4 linked regions of the Homo sapiens genome follow. The protein of the gene in region 1 purifies or fractionates together with the protein of each later gene. This does not show direct contact. Each region holds a gene or a part of one and is shown in the gene's direction. Other genes may lie near its edges.

Region 1 (3,500 bases):
AAGATAATTAAGTCTGTTGGATATACATTGAATGTGAAAGATCTTTGAAATATTCAAGAACTCTTCCATAAAAAGGCAGTTGGATTTATAGGTCTGGAGTTTAGGAGAGAGATGAGGTTGGAAATACAGGTTTGGGAATTATCAGCATATACACCTGCCTAGAAACCATGGGATAGATGAGATCTCATAACACAGGTCCTAGTATTCTATTTGCAACACTTCCAGTGACATTTTTCCTGGTAACTCCCCTGACTAGTCTATTCATCTAACTCCTTGGCTTGTTCTTCATTCTGTGAATAAGGCCCATGTTAAATTTGCCCCTAGGTTAGGATGACTCTCATTATTCTTTATTTATTTATTTATTTATTTATTTATTTATTTTGAGATGGAGTCTCCCTCTGTCACCTAGGCTGGAGTGCAATGGTACGATCTTGGCTCACTGCAGCCTCTGCCTCCCAGGTTCAAGTGATTCTCCTGCCTCAGCCTCCTGAGTAGCTGGGATTACAGGTGCACATCACTACACCCAACTAAGTTTTGTATTTTTAGTAGAGAGGGGGTTTCACCATGTTGGCCAGGCTGGTCTCAAACTCCTGACCTCAAATAATCTACCTGCCTTGGCCTCCCAAAGTGCTGGGATTACAGGTGTGAGCCATTGTGCCCAGCTGACCCTCATTATTCTTTACCCAACAGCTTCTATCAAGAGAATTTATGATGATGTATCTAATCTACAGAAAATAAATTTTCTCTTATAAGGAAGAGCTTGTACAGGATAATAATCTTTTCTCTGCTTAGCTCTAGGAAGAAGCTCCTCTGGGCATGTAACTCTTTGCCTTGTGTTCCTACTAAATTTGCTTCTTGTCAACAATACAGAGATACTCACAATACAATGAATTTCTCAACTCTTTAGAAAGGAAAGGAGAAAGGAAAAAAATCCCATCCTGCCTCCTAATGTCTTCAATTTTGTGGAGCAAATCAGCTCAATAAGGGTTTTCTTTTAGAAGTTGCTAAGAGTTATTAATTCATTTGCTCCCTATTTATGGGCACTCCAAGCAGGTCCTAAGTGAGGCAGTGTGGCAGTTACAGAAGTAGTAACTTCTAGAATTGGTAACAGTGGAATAAAATTTCTGCCTTTCAGCCTCCCTCAGTGAAAAAAATACCACTGCAGGTATGATTGTTGCTTGCATGCCTTCTTAAGCCTTTTTTTCTTCCTGTGGATTCCTTACCTCCTTGTTCTTTGGAGGGTACTTGGCACATCTTCTAGTTTACTTCCAATTATTTCTCAAAGAGTATTAGTGTTCTTCACTCCCTTACTCTTTTTTTTAAAAAAATGAGCACCTGTCATAAAAGTCAAGGGGAAAGAATGGAACAAATGTTGCATGGTCCCCAAATAGCCCTCTCCCTAAAGTACCCTTGCACATTATGTGGTGGTTAGTGGATTGGGAAGTGAAATCAATTTAACTTCAAGGACTCCATATTACCACGGAGGCCATGGTTAAAATTGCATTTCCTAATGTACTGATAATTCTGATATATAGCTAGGGTTGAAAACTACTGGAACAGAGAAATAGCAACCTGCCTAAGAAATCTGATTCTTTCAGAATGGGATTATCAGCATTTCTATTTTATTTTACTATTTTGTTTTATTTTATTTTATTTTTCTGAGATGGAGTCTCACTCTGTCACCCAGGCTGGAGTGCAGTGGCGTGATCTTGGCTCACTGCAACCTCCGCCTCCCAGGTTGAAGTGATTCTCCCGCCTCAGCCTCCCGAGTAGCTGAGATTACAGGCAACTGCCACCACTCCTGGCTAATTTTTGTATTTTCAGTAGAGACGGGGTTTTACCTTGTTGGCCAGGCTGGTCTCGAACTCCTGACTTCAGGTGATCTGCCCGCCTCGTCCCCGCAAAGTGCTGGAATTACAAGCATGAGCCACCGTGCCCAGCCTATTTTATATTTCATAACGGACAATTCTAGAAAGACTTTATTCCTAGAAGTGCTCTCAGAGATTATTTTATCCACTTCTACTTCCAAGTAGGGAAGCGCCAAAACTTCATTTAGTCAATTCCCTCTTGCTGTGTTTTTGGTGGACGGAAAGGATGTAGCCCAATTTATAATGATTCTCTGTAGAGATTACTCTGTATTTTTTTCCTACTCTATCTATCCTTCCCAATTCCTTCAATCCTTCATTTATGCTGCTTCTATTTGGACCTCCTTATTTTTTTGTATTGGGCTTCCTCAGAGTGCTGGGATGAGAAATTTACCTGCACAAGGCTCTACTCTGTGCATCGGCCGGTTAAACAATGCATTCATCAGTTATGCTTCACCAGGTAAGGGATCCCAGAATGCCCAAAAAGCATCTTCCATGGTAGTGTTTCTGTGTTGATAACTATTTAATGAGCACCCACTATGGAATTGCAAACTTTGATGGGGCCAAAGTTTTTAGCACAACCCTCCTAGTTATTGCTGAATGTACCAACTAGAACCTGGAGTATGGGCTGAAGTGTACAAAGAACAGGCAGAGTAATAGAACTTAGAAGGGAAATGAAGGTGGGCGCTGGAGGAAGAAGGGTCATGAGGGAAATACTGGCATGCTCAATTTATTACCTGATAGAAGGAGACTGAAGAGAATGGCCCAGCTCTAAGGTAGAAAATAGTGGGGAGGAATATTAAGCCTGACTTTAGGTAGAGTGTGCAAAGTGTCACTAAGAAGAATAACTAAAACAATGGCCTTTGCAACAACTTGGATGGAGCTGGAGGTCATTATTCTAAATGAAGTAACTAAACAATGAAAAACCAAATATTGTATGTTCTCGCTTATAAGTGGGAGCTAAGCTATGAGGAGGCAAAAACATAAGAATGATATAATGGACTTTGGGGACTCAGGGGAAAGAGTGGGAGAGGAATGAGGGATAAAGGCTACACATTGGGTACGGTGTACACTGCTTGGGTGACGGGTGCACCCAAATCTCAGAAATCACCACTAAAGAACTTATCCATGTAACCAAAAACCACCTGTACACCAAAAACTATTGAAATAAAATTTAAAAAACAGAAGAGTAATTAATACCATTCCCTCCCCTATTTTCCAGTTGGGGGGCAAAAGTCTGAAATACTTAAGAAAATACAGTTGGGGAAAAGCAGATAGGGAAAGTGGGGAATATGAGAGTTGAAGAGGCATCCCAGACCCAGGTGAGTTCTCCTCTCAAGGCTTTCTTCCATCTCCTTCCTTGCCTATGACACTGGGACGTCTGCAGTTTACGACGTATGTACATCGTCAACAAGGAGATCTGCTCTCGTCTTGTCTGTAAGGAACACGAAGCTATGAAAGGTAAGATGATGTCTGGATGTTTAATGGAGAGAAGCAGTTATGAGAAGGGTAGATAGGGACATGATATTACTATATCCAAAGTCTGGTACTAGAGGAGGGCTTCAGGCTACCCCCTTAGAGTCCATCAGCTCCTGCTGGAAGTTATCTCAAATAAACAATCTACATAAAGCAGTA
Region 2 (3,500 bases), on another chromosome or scaffold:
GTGGCTTTTTAAAAATTATGTTATATACAATTACCATCAGTTATAATCTGTTACTTATTGTTGGATAGTTAGATTGGACTCCATTTTTTTCTATTTTTCTGATGAGGATCCTTTTAACTAAATTTTACTGTACATCTTTATTTTCTTAGACAAATATTTAAAAGTTAAATAGCTGATTCATAGGATATGTACTTTTATTAGTCATTTAGTACGTGCTTCTAAGTTGCTTTTCATAAACATTGTACCAGTTGTACACTGCCACCATTATTTTATCAGAGTGCTTATCTTAGGTGCTAGATTTGAATATTATTTAAGAAACAAAACAAAATCAATTTATTTTCTAGTAAGGTCAAATACCTTTATACGTTTATTTCATAAGTTTATTGGTGACATGGGCATTTCTAATTCATCTTCTTTTGGCTATTTATCTTTAATGGTGATTTTTTTTTTCTTTTTTTTTTTTTTTGAGACAGAGTCTCACTCTGTCGCCCAGGTTGGAGTGAAGTGGCATCATCTTCCTCACTGCATTCTCTGCCTCCCAGGTTCAAGCGATTCTCATGGTCTCACCGTGTTGCTCAAGCTGGTCTCGATCTCCTGAGCTCAGGCAATCCGCCCACCTCGGCCTGTCAAAGTGCTGGGATTACAGGTGTGAGCCACCATGGGTGGCCTCTTTAATATAGATTTATAAGGCCCCTTTGTTATATATTTTCAAAAATTCAAATTAAAACTAAATCCCCAAATGTCCCATTTATTAATGAAGTATTTTGTCATATGGATGTTTTAAAGCTGTGTATGTTGAAATCTTTTGTTTTCCTTTTATGATTGTTTCTGTCTTTGGTAGTTTGCTTAAAAATAATTCCTCTCAGCTATCTTTATAGTTCCTATATTTAAAATTTTGATTCATTTGAGGTTTCTTCCAAATAGTTAATTGGTTGCCTATAACTCATGATTTGAAGAATTTCTCTTTTGTCCGCTGATATATTACTTTTATCATGCACTAAATTCGCATATACTGATATAATATTGTTATTCCTTCTCTTTTAATCTTTAGAAAGGTTACATGATTAAAATTCTTTTAAAAATACGTATTTATGTAGTGTTCATTGGATAAAAGAAATACAGAAAATATAAAGAAGGAAGAAAAACCAATAAAACACATAATATAAAGCAGAAAAAGACCACTGTAAAAAAGTGTTTATCTTTCCACATTTTTTTCTAAGTATATAGAGACAAATATAACATAAAAATGAAATCATCCCCTAAGGTGGTTTTATTAGCTACTTTAACATTTAAAACATATCATGAATATATTTGTCTGTGTCTGTAAATATAGATCCAGGATTATTGCAAATAGCTTCATACACCCCATTATAAAGATGTGTTCTTATTCAAAATCTACACTTGAAAATAAAAATTATAAGTATATAAATATACACATATACTAAAAAGTGGTAGGCAACAGATACTTAGTACTTTTTCCGTAAATTTTATTATTACCTTATATTCTTCACATGCAATTGGGACAAATGGCCAGAGAAAGATATATTTTAGATGTGTAAGTTAATTAACTATAAACTGTAAGAGTACATCATAGTAGCTATACATGTGATTAACAAGCTAGTCACAATCATTCTTTTTATTTTATAAACACAAACTATTATAAATACAAAATAAGAAAAAGATAGTTAAATGTTAGCTGTTATGAAGAGTGAAAACATTATATAAATTTCAAACGGCTGCTTTCTGCATCTGCATCAGTATAATTTCATGATTTTCTACCAAGTTCATTTGTATAAAGAATCTCTATGATCAATTTATCATTCACTTTCATGCCCCCACATGGAAAGTGGTAGGTGAATATCTGTAGGAATACAATTTATTGTCTGCTTGTCCACTGAAAAGTAGCCCTGTGTCCCTATCCAGTCTACACTCAGAACTTTGTCTTCATGAGCAGCCAGATCATACAACTTCTTGTATCCCACAACTTGACAATGTTATCTAAAGATCCTGAAATCAGTTGCTGTTCATGGGTAGGAGACCATTTTACTAATGTCACGCAACCTGTATTTGAAGTTAGGGACAGTGACACCAAAGAATGGTCTTTAGTTCGGGGATCCCACAGTCTGGTATGCCTATCTGTGCTTCCAGATGCTAAACGTTTACAAAGTTGGAGAATGGGAAATACAATTAAGCACTTTATTTCCTGTCAAAGCTTGCCTTCAGACTGTCAGACTCAACATCCTACACTCTAATTGTATGGTCCCAAGATGCACTGCAGATTTCTTCAGCATCTGACCACAGAACTGAGGAAATTGCTTCCTTGTGACCAGAGAGGGTCACTATGGGAGTCATAGCTGCTCTGTGTTCTCTGTCGATTTGTGGATTCCTCCATTTCATCTTCTTCTTCTGTAGGGACTGTAGACCAGATCTTTAGCATCTTATCCCAGGAGCCACTACAAAATTTAGTTCCTGAGCTATCAACAGCTATAGACTCTGCACTTCCAGCATGACCTCTGCAGCACGGTCGGGCTTTCACTTTGTTTCTCTCTATTCCACTCCCATAAGAGAATAGTTGGATCCATAGAGGCACTCACAAATAAGCAAGACAAACTATCTTTTTTTTTGGCCCAGGCCACATCTTTTAAGACATCCCTATGTCCAACAATTGTCATTATTGACTTTCTTTCCAAGGACCGGATTTGAGAGGTCTTATCATAAGAACCAGTCAAGATCCATTCCTTTGCCCCTTTAACTGAAAGGATCCAGTCATCATGGAACATGCATTGCTCTGGCTGGGGTGCTGTGTACTTCACATATTCTATTTCCACAACTACTTCTGATGACATGTTCTCCAGTTCCATGTGTTTGACCAAGGACATTCGCAGAAACTGGCCCTTAATAAGGAAATAAAACTCCATATGTTTGTGGAACTCATTTTTGTCCTTTAGTAATTTATTGATGATGTTACTAAGGTCAGCAAATTCAGAGGCGGCAGGGATTGAGAAGGAAACATCATTTACAGCATATTTCTTGTTATCGGTGTAGAAATGTGTTTGGAGCTGAGCCAAGGCAAGGAGTACACACAAGACTTTTGGGTTAGTAGAGAGAGAATGGGAGCTCCTGTCTCTTAACTACAAAGAGGCCGCTCAAAATTAGACTGCACAGGTAAGCGAGAAGCTGCAGTCTAAGCCTGGACTCTGCTTTTCCTCCTTGGGTCTGCTCCACCCACAATCATTCTTTCTAAGGAGCCATGAGTCTGTCTATGGAGTCTCCAATCTGCAGGTTATCACTCATAAGTACATTCTAACAATATATGTGCATCAGTGTACATTCTACTTTTGTATTCTTTAAGTAGCAAATAAGCAGTTTCTATGTGAATTTTGTTAAACTTTGGGTGAATTTCAAACAAATAGTAAAATAGAGATACTTGCAAAATGAAATTTCATGTATCCATCACCTGGCTTCAACATGATCAATTCGTGGCTAATTTTGTTTCTTCT
Region 3 (4,119 bases), on another chromosome or scaffold:
GGTAGAAGGGCCCTTGGCTGATGGGGCCATAAAGTGCCCTTTCTTTGGTTTTGTGCTCTCCCTCTCTTGTGGGGCCAGTCATTTGAATCCAGAAGATATCCCAGGATGGAGCTGCCCTGAGTATTTCTGTGGCTGGTTGGAAGGCTGGCACACAACAAAGTGGGCATGCAGCAGGCTGCCTCCCTGGCTTAGGCCAAAAAAATAAAGCAACTCAGAGATGGAGAAGAGGCAGGAAATCTATGTTGTAAAAAGTCTTTGTTTAAAGGAATTCCGTTCAGGTGCTGAGAACGGGGTGTTCAGCAGAAGAGGATAATATGAGTAAACATTGGCAGTAAGAACAAACACAGCAGTATCACTGTCTGCGTCTGGCCTCCTCCTGTGCTCAGTCACAGGTCTCTCCCACCGCCCTCTATGATAGCAATCATAAACAACATGTAGAAGGGCTTTACAGTTCACAGACCTCAGTTCCCCTCAGCGGCACTTCCTTGCAGGGTTTCTTTATGCACTGGATGACCCTGGTTCCACATAAATGAAAACTGGGCTTAAAGGACACATCCATGTCCTGGGAGCTGTACAGACTTAAAGAAAAACCTAGATAGGGGCAAAAATTGGGGCAGGCGGTGGGGGTGGGGGGTGGGGGGTGGGGGGGGGGAAGAAGTGGTCGAGAGAGTCATCTAATAGGTCACCAATGTTGCTTCTGGGAGGTTGCCGGAGGGTTGGCTCCTTTCAGCCAGGTTTAGGGCCAGGTCTGGACACACTCAGGAGGCCGGTGGCTGAAGGGCAGAGGGCAGGGTGGAGGCCCAAGTGAGGCCAAGGAAGGAGTGGATGCCGCTGGGGCTGGCACTTCCTTGGCTTCTCAGCGTCCTGGCAACCAAGAAAAGATTCCAGGAGTCGACTGGTGGCACCAATGCGAGAAGCCCCGGGCGGATGAAAGAAGCTGACCCGTGCGAACCCCCCACCCCCTCCACAAAACCAGGAGATTCCTGCCCAAGAGCAAGAGATGGAATTCCCCTAACGGAGGAAGCTGCCGACCTAAGGGCTGGGACTGGCAGCGCGCCCTCTCCGGGAGCTTCAGGTCTGGGGCAGCCTGTGCAGGCGCGGGTGGAGGCCCGGGCGCGTCCCTGGGGGCGGGAGCCAGGGGCGGCCAGCAGGTGGGGCCTGGGAGCTGGACTCCGCCCCCCGCTCCCTCCCCGTTGGTCCGCTGCCGCTCAGCACCGGCCCCTCTCCCGAGCCGGAGCGCGATTGGTGGCAGCGCTTGTCGCTCGGAGGGGGCCGGGCCGCTCTGCTTCGCGGCTCTCCCCGCCGCCGCTGCCGCTGCCGCTGTTCTCCTAGCAGCGCGGGCCGGTCGGACCGCCAAGGCAGCCGGCGCTGGCGATGGGAAGCGGCGTGGCCGCCGACACAGGCAGTGGCAAAGTTTCCCAGACGTACACATCTGGACGCGCGGCTGCCGGCTACCCGTGACCCCTCTAGGAAGGGTTCAGGGATTTTTAATTTGGAAAAAAATCCACCTGGTTTCCTTTGTCAAGGTCTCTCCGGGTGGCCAGCGGCAGGAGCTGCAAACTTGGGCACGGCGGCTACACCGGCAGCGGACCGGGCTTTGGAGAACCTCGGGACTCAGGTGCTGAGGTGCCCAGCGGCTCCGGACGTGCTACGGGGTGCGAGCGCGGGGGAGTTCGGGGCGCACGACAAGGAAGGGCCCCCGGGAGCTCTATATGGAGGAAGGAGCCCAGAATGGTGTGCACCAGGAAGACCAAAACTTTGGTGTCCACTTGCGTGATCCTGAGCGGCATGACTAACATCATCTGCCTGCTCTACGTGGGCTGGGTCACCAACTACATCGCCAGCGTGTATGTGCGGGGGCAGGAGCCGGCGCCCGACAAGAAGCTGGAGGAAGACAAAGGGGACACTCTGAAGATTATTGAGCGGCTGGACCACCTGGAGAATGTCATCAAGCAGCACATTCAAGGTACGGGCGCCCCGGAAACTTGGGTCGCCCATGAGGCCCGGGAGTGCCCCGCGCGGCGCGGGGTGCGCTGGGGCTGGTGCGCATCAACTCAGCCACGGCGGGGCTCTGGGGCCGCAGATGCGTGGTAGTCGTGGGGCCTGCGTGTGAGCTCCTGCCTGCGTTCGGGACCTTCTGTCTGCGGCCGTGCGCTCTTCCCCGGGGCACACGTGTGTGCGCAGGGCTGCACGAGCGGATGTGTGCAGCTAGCTGGCGGTATGGGGGCGCGCTGCGCACGTGTCCAAATGTGCGTGTGACTCTGGGCTGGTTGCTCGCGGGCTCTCGGGATCGCACACAAGTCCGGCTCAGAGTGTGTGTGCATGTGAATGTCTGTGTGTGTACAAGAGGGAACGCGCGGGCAAACGAGCTTTTTTGGCCACTGTAGGCGTCAGGCGAGATGCCCGCGCGGCGGCCCTGACTATTGGCAGTTAAGACCCGCAGGCTGCCGGACAAGCGAGGCTAGGAAAATTGCGTTGTATCAGCCCCAGCCCCAGTCTTGCTGTGATCCCGTTGGTAGGCGATAGGGAATGCAAGGAGCCCTCTGTGGTTGAAAAGCCGCTTGAACCTATAGCAGTCCCTACCCCCACCACAGCCCGCGGGTCCAGGACCCTCTCCAGGAGCAGGTGTCAACGCCGGGAAGTAGCGCTGGAGTCTCTGTCCACTGTGGTGATGACTCCGCCCAAGACTGGAAGAACACGCCCTGGGCTGCGCCTTCCCCGCGGAGCCGCCCGGGACCGGGTGAAGGCCGATCCCTACTGTAGCTCCACTCTCAGGCCCTGGGAGCAGCCGGGGCTGAGCAGACCTGGGTTGGGTCTGAAGTGTAAGGTTACGCTGGTTGGGTGCGCTCCAGACCAGCGCGGGGGTCCAAAGGGAGGGTGGGGGTTGCAGGGCGCTCTCCCGAGGCGACCTGGTCAATGAGCTGTCATGGGAGGGAATGGAGTTCCGGGCGCCAGGAGCACTGGTGCCGGGTGTGCACACACACACACACACGCGCGCGCGCGCGCGCTCACGTCCACACTTCCTCCCCTCCCCGCGCCCCCTGCTTTCTTCCAGGTGTGTGAGCTTCTTAAGGGCAGGGCCGAGCTTGGTTCCCCTGTAAACCTAGCAGGCCCACCAGGCTCAGGGGCCAGTGCATGGCAGACCTTGGCAAAATCGAATTGAACTGAAGGCTTACCCCCCACCCCCCCGCCAGGAGCACTCCCTTTTGTTTACACGTGGATGTCTGAATTCCAATCCTTGCACCTGCTGCTCTTGCCAGAGTAGAGATGGCTCCTCCGTCTGAATTTGGTGTTTCCCCAGGTGTCCAGAATAGTTCCTTTCCAGGAGGGGAAGGTTCAGGGAGGTTCAGGTGAGTGCAGGAGAGGCATCCACATCCATAGTGCTTCCTGACTAATGACTTCAAAACAAGCCCATGGCTTCGGCACCTTCCCAGAAAAGAGGGACATTGACAGCTTCTTCTTCAGACCTGCCTCTGCCTCTCAACCTGGCACTGGGCTTGAAAACCAATTTACCTATCTGTGGGTGCCAGTTGCTGTTATTTCTTACGTGTCCTTTTCCATCCCATAGGTCTTGATTGACTATTAATCAGCAATAGAAGTACAGTGTTTCCCCCAGGGTGATTCAGAATGTTCCCCAGGAGACACAAAGCCATGCCTTACTTTGACATTTCTAGTTTGCCGACAGATTTTGAGATTTTCATTCACAGATTCTGTGTGTGTGTGTGTTCCTGGAAAATGATTCTCTTGTGCTTTTCTTTCTGGTCAGGCAGGAGGTGAGCAAGGTACTGCTTTGGGGATGCTTTCAGGGGATGCCATTAACCCCTGAGCCTGTAACGGAGTGGGTGCCAGTCATGTGGAATGTGGACCATGTCACATGATTTCTAAGGTTCCACATGGAAAAGCATGATGTTGAAGTTGAAAGGAAGCATTGTGATTTTTCTCCCCGGAAACTTTATAACTATGTGTTGTTCAGCACTTTCAAATCTATACCTGAAAAATTGGAGAAGATAGGTTAAAAAAATAGGAGACAGGGTCCCTAAAACACGTGTTGTTCCACTTGTACACGTGCAATGACCCCTGTGGGTATTCAGAAATAACCACAATCTCGACAGAGGGCCA
Region 4 (3,500 bases), on another chromosome or scaffold:
AAAGAGATTAATTTTAAGAGACCCTTAGTATACATCATCCCAATAGCAGGGTAAATCAGGGCCACGATACTTAGATTTGGAATGTGCTTTTTTTCCTCTCGAATAACCCTGCTGCTCTGTTTAGACTTTGGAGCTATTTGAGGGCTAGCCTTTAGCAGTCAAATCAGATGCCTAAGATGAGTGACTAGTAGAGGAGGGCACCTTGAGGGCAGGGTCCCGCTTTAACTCTTTTGTCCCACCCTTCCCCACCCCCTTCACCCTAATCTGCATTGGGTAGACATGAGATGACCAGTAGTGTCTGGCAGGCTGCTTAGTGCCTGCTGATGCACACCAGTATTGGTGGTCCTGGGGATGCTCAGACCCCACTTGGGTGGTGTGGCAGCAGCTTTGAAACCCTGCCTCTGGCCATCTGCTGTTAGTAGGGTTGGAAGGCCAGGGTCTTGGAAGGGAAGGGAAGCTGACAAACTAGAAAAACTGATCACAGCACACAACAGTGTTCCTCCATGGATCACTGAATGAAAACCTCGGTGCCAGGAACTCCTCCAACTGAGTTAGGTTGGATTATTATTTCCACTGCATAGATGAGGAAACTAAGGTTTCGAGAATTTAGGTGACTTGCTCAACAGCTAGAGCCAGGCTTGTAATATAGGCTCACCTACTCCAAATCCTGTGCTCAGAACCACAACAACTTGCCCTGGATTAAAATAGCACCTGGCACTTGGTGTCACTAGGCCGATGGTTCTCAGCCCTGGCTGCACAGCTGAGGCACTAGATTGAGCTAGAATCTTTGGGACAGATTCTAGCTCCTTCTTGAAACTAGAATCCTTCTTGAAGCTCCTTGAGTGATTTTGATGGGCTGCCAGGGTTTCAAACCACTATACCAGGTTAAACCATTTTGACAGTAGAGACCAGCCGGGAAATGATTACCCCCATGTAACTGGCTTTTGCATATACGACCTTTCTGCTTACATTAGGGACAGGACTATTTGTTCATGTGATTCAAAATGTACCAACATCCTGTGCTAGACACTGGGGATACTGAATCAGGCAGAATGACTTCTCACGGAGAGGAAACAGCCCAGGCCAGCCTGGGACCCTGGGAATATGATCCGTTGAGTGCTTCCTACTACTTCTGGCATGTCCCAGCCCTCCTGAGCAAGCAGGGTTGCTGTCTACTCTGTCCTATAATTCCCTCTGAATCTTGGGCTCCTTTGACTGGTGCTGATATTTTTTTCCTCCAGGAGACTTAAGGGACAGGGAAAAAAGTAGAAGAATGAAAGTAGGGCATGCAGTGTTAGAGGAGAGAAGATGCAGGAATGGGGCTCGTTAATATCTGAGTAATGAGTTTGCATTGCTGGCAGGGTGAGAGTGTGTGTGTTTAGGAGGCTGGGTTCAGAACGGGTGGTGCAGTCTGCATAAGTCTAGACAAGGTCACAGAAGTTCTTAAAAGTGAAATCTGACCAGCCTCTCCCATTGCCAGAACAAAAGCACCAAATTCCATTTTTTTTTTTTTTTTTTTTTTTGAGAGAATCTCGCTCTGTTGCCCAGGCTGGAGTACAGTGGTGCGATCTTGGCTGACTGCCACATCTGCCTTCTGGGTTCAAGCGATTCTCTTGCCTCAGCCTCCCGAGTAGCTGGGATTACAGACTCGCGCCACCACAGCCAGCTAACTTTTGTATTTTTTAGTAGAGACGGGGTTTTGCCATGTTGCCCAGGCTAGTCTCACACTCCTGGCCTCAAATGATCTGCCCTCCTCGGCCTCCCAAAGTGCTGGGATTCCAGGCGTGAACCACCACACCCGGCCCCTAATTCCATTCTTGATTGCTCCATCACACTGCTTGCTCTCAGGTTTCTGCTGAATAATGCTCCTTGGTCCTCTCAACTTCCAATTCTTTGATGTATTTTGACTCCTCCCCCATCCAGCCACCCCATCCCCCCATCATGTCAAGACTGGGTTGAGGGGGGGTATCTTGGCAAGTGAAGAGGCAGAATCTAGGGTGACTAACATGACTGAATTGCAAATAGCTGTTGATGAAAAAGAGGGCACAGCACTGCAATACATCCAGATTCCCAGGTATCTCATCTGGACTCCGGTGGCTGATGGGATTCTTGATTATGGAGTGCTCCCCGCCCCAACCCTGAGGCTATCTGTGGAAAGGCAATGGGTTGAGTTTGAGTTTTCTCCATCATACCGCAGGGAGGGAGGAAGTGACTGTTGTGATTATAGCAGACGGCAGTTAGAGAAGTGACTGCTGCTTACTCCCCACAGGATGGTGAGCAGGGCTTCTCAGAGGAGGTGGGAAATTCTCCCGCGGTGGGTAGAGTGAGGAATGTTTTATGGGCCCAGAAAATCAAGAGCAGCTTCACACATACTCTCATGTCTCTTATCTTTGAGCCACTCAGTGGCTCTTGACCCAGTCAAGGGCTGCCGATGAGAATTACCTGGAGAGATTGAAAACGTAACAGATTCAGAGATCCAGATTTAGTTGGTCTCCACTGGAATGTTTTTTTAAAGTTCTCCAGATGGTTCTAATGTGCAGCTGGAGCTGAGGAACTTACTGAAGCAAATGCTTCTTCCTCCTAATTGTAGGCATAGTTGCGCTAGACCTTTGGAGGGCCTGAGACCTTCTGTTCTTCATCATAATTTTAAGTGTTCACCTACCATCTTCTGATACCACCACTACCACTCCACCCCTGTCTTTACTCCTAGCAAGACAACCTTAGCCTGTAGCTGTATTCTTATTTTACAACTGGGAAAGCAGGCCTGGAGAAGTTAAGGGACTTTCACAGTGTACCAGGTCATACCTACTGCAGAAACCAGGGTTTCTTATTCCCATTCCAGAACCTTGTCTGTAGATCTCATGCATGACTTCCAGGGTCGTGATTTTTTTGTCTGAAATATTCTAGAGAAGTGACTTCTACCCACCCTAGTTGTCATCCTCCCTATCTTCTTGGACTCTCTCTGTGATAGAAGGGAGTAATTTAGAACCTGGAATCAGGGTCGGGTGTGGTGGCTCATGCCTGTAATCCCAGCACTTTGGGGGGCCAAGGCAGGTGGATCACGAGGTCAGGAGATCGAGACCATCCTGGCTAACACAGCGAAACCCCGTCTCTACTAAAGATACAAAAAATTAGCCGGGTGCAGTGGCGGGTGCCTGTAGTCCCAGCTACTTGGGAGACTGAGGCAGGAGAATGGCATGAATCTGGGAGGTGGAGTTTGCAGTGAGCCAAGATCGCGCTACTGCACTCCAGCCTGGGCAAAAGAGCGAGACTCCATCTCAAAAAAAAAAAAAAAGAACCTGGAATCAGAAGACCTGGATTTGAATCCTGCTTCTGCCGAGGGTGTTCTTGGACCCCATCCAAGCCTTAGTTATAATAATCCCTTGTGGAGTGGGTGTGGGAATGAAACAGAACGTTCTTTGGAAACTTTAAGATGCTTGGTAAATGCTACTTCCTTGGAGCAATTATCTCATCAGCATCTGTCGGGACCCAGGTTGTAC

What was found.
Region 2: the proteins of MFAP5 (region 1) and MANBA purify together in Homo sapiens (affinity purification with mass spectrometry; one large-scale study listed by BioGRID and IntAct). This does not show direct contact.
Region 3: the proteins of MFAP5 (region 1) and GALNT18 purify together in Homo sapiens (affinity purification with mass spectrometry; one large-scale study listed by BioGRID and IntAct). This does not show direct contact.
Region 4: the proteins of MFAP5 (region 1) and MOCS1 purify together in Homo sapiens (affinity purification with mass spectrometry; one large-scale study listed by BioGRID and IntAct). This does not show direct contact.

What each region holds. Positions count from the first base shown.
Region 1 is NC_000012.12:8,649,327-8,652,826, reverse strand, and holds part of MFAP5 (microfibrillar-associated protein 5 isoform a precursor), read left to right. Parts: intron 1-1,135; coding exon 1,136-1,165; intron 1,166-2,237; coding exon 2,238-2,325; intron 2,326-3,252; coding exon 3,253-3,326; intron 3,327-3,500. UniProt on the Homo sapiens protein: May play a role in hematopoiesis. In the cardiovascular system, could regulate growth factors or participate in cell signaling in maintaining large vessel integrity. Component of the elastin-associated microfibrils.
Region 2 is NC_000004.12:102,750,969-102,754,468, reverse strand, and holds part of MANBA (beta-mannosidase precursor), read left to right. Parts: intron 1-1,633; exon of another isoform or gene 1,634-3,222; intron 3,223-3,500.
Region 3 is NC_000011.10:11,619,206-11,623,324, reverse strand, and holds the start of GALNT18 (polypeptide N-acetylgalactosaminyltransferase 18), read left to right. Parts: upstream 1-1,319; 5' UTR 1,320-1,731; coding exon 1,732-1,966; intron 1,967-4,119. UniProt on the Homo sapiens protein: Catalyzes the initial reaction in O-linked oligosaccharide biosynthesis, the transfer of an N-acetyl-D-galactosamine (GalNAc) residue from UDP-GalNAc to a serine or threonine residue on the protein receptor.
Region 4 is NC_000006.12:39,927,963-39,931,462, reverse strand, and holds part of MOCS1 (molybdenum cofactor biosynthesis protein 1), read left to right. Parts: intron 1-3,500. UniProt on the Homo sapiens protein: Isoform MOCS1A and isoform MOCS1B probably form a complex that catalyzes the conversion of 5'-GTP to cyclic pyranopterin monophosphate (cPMP).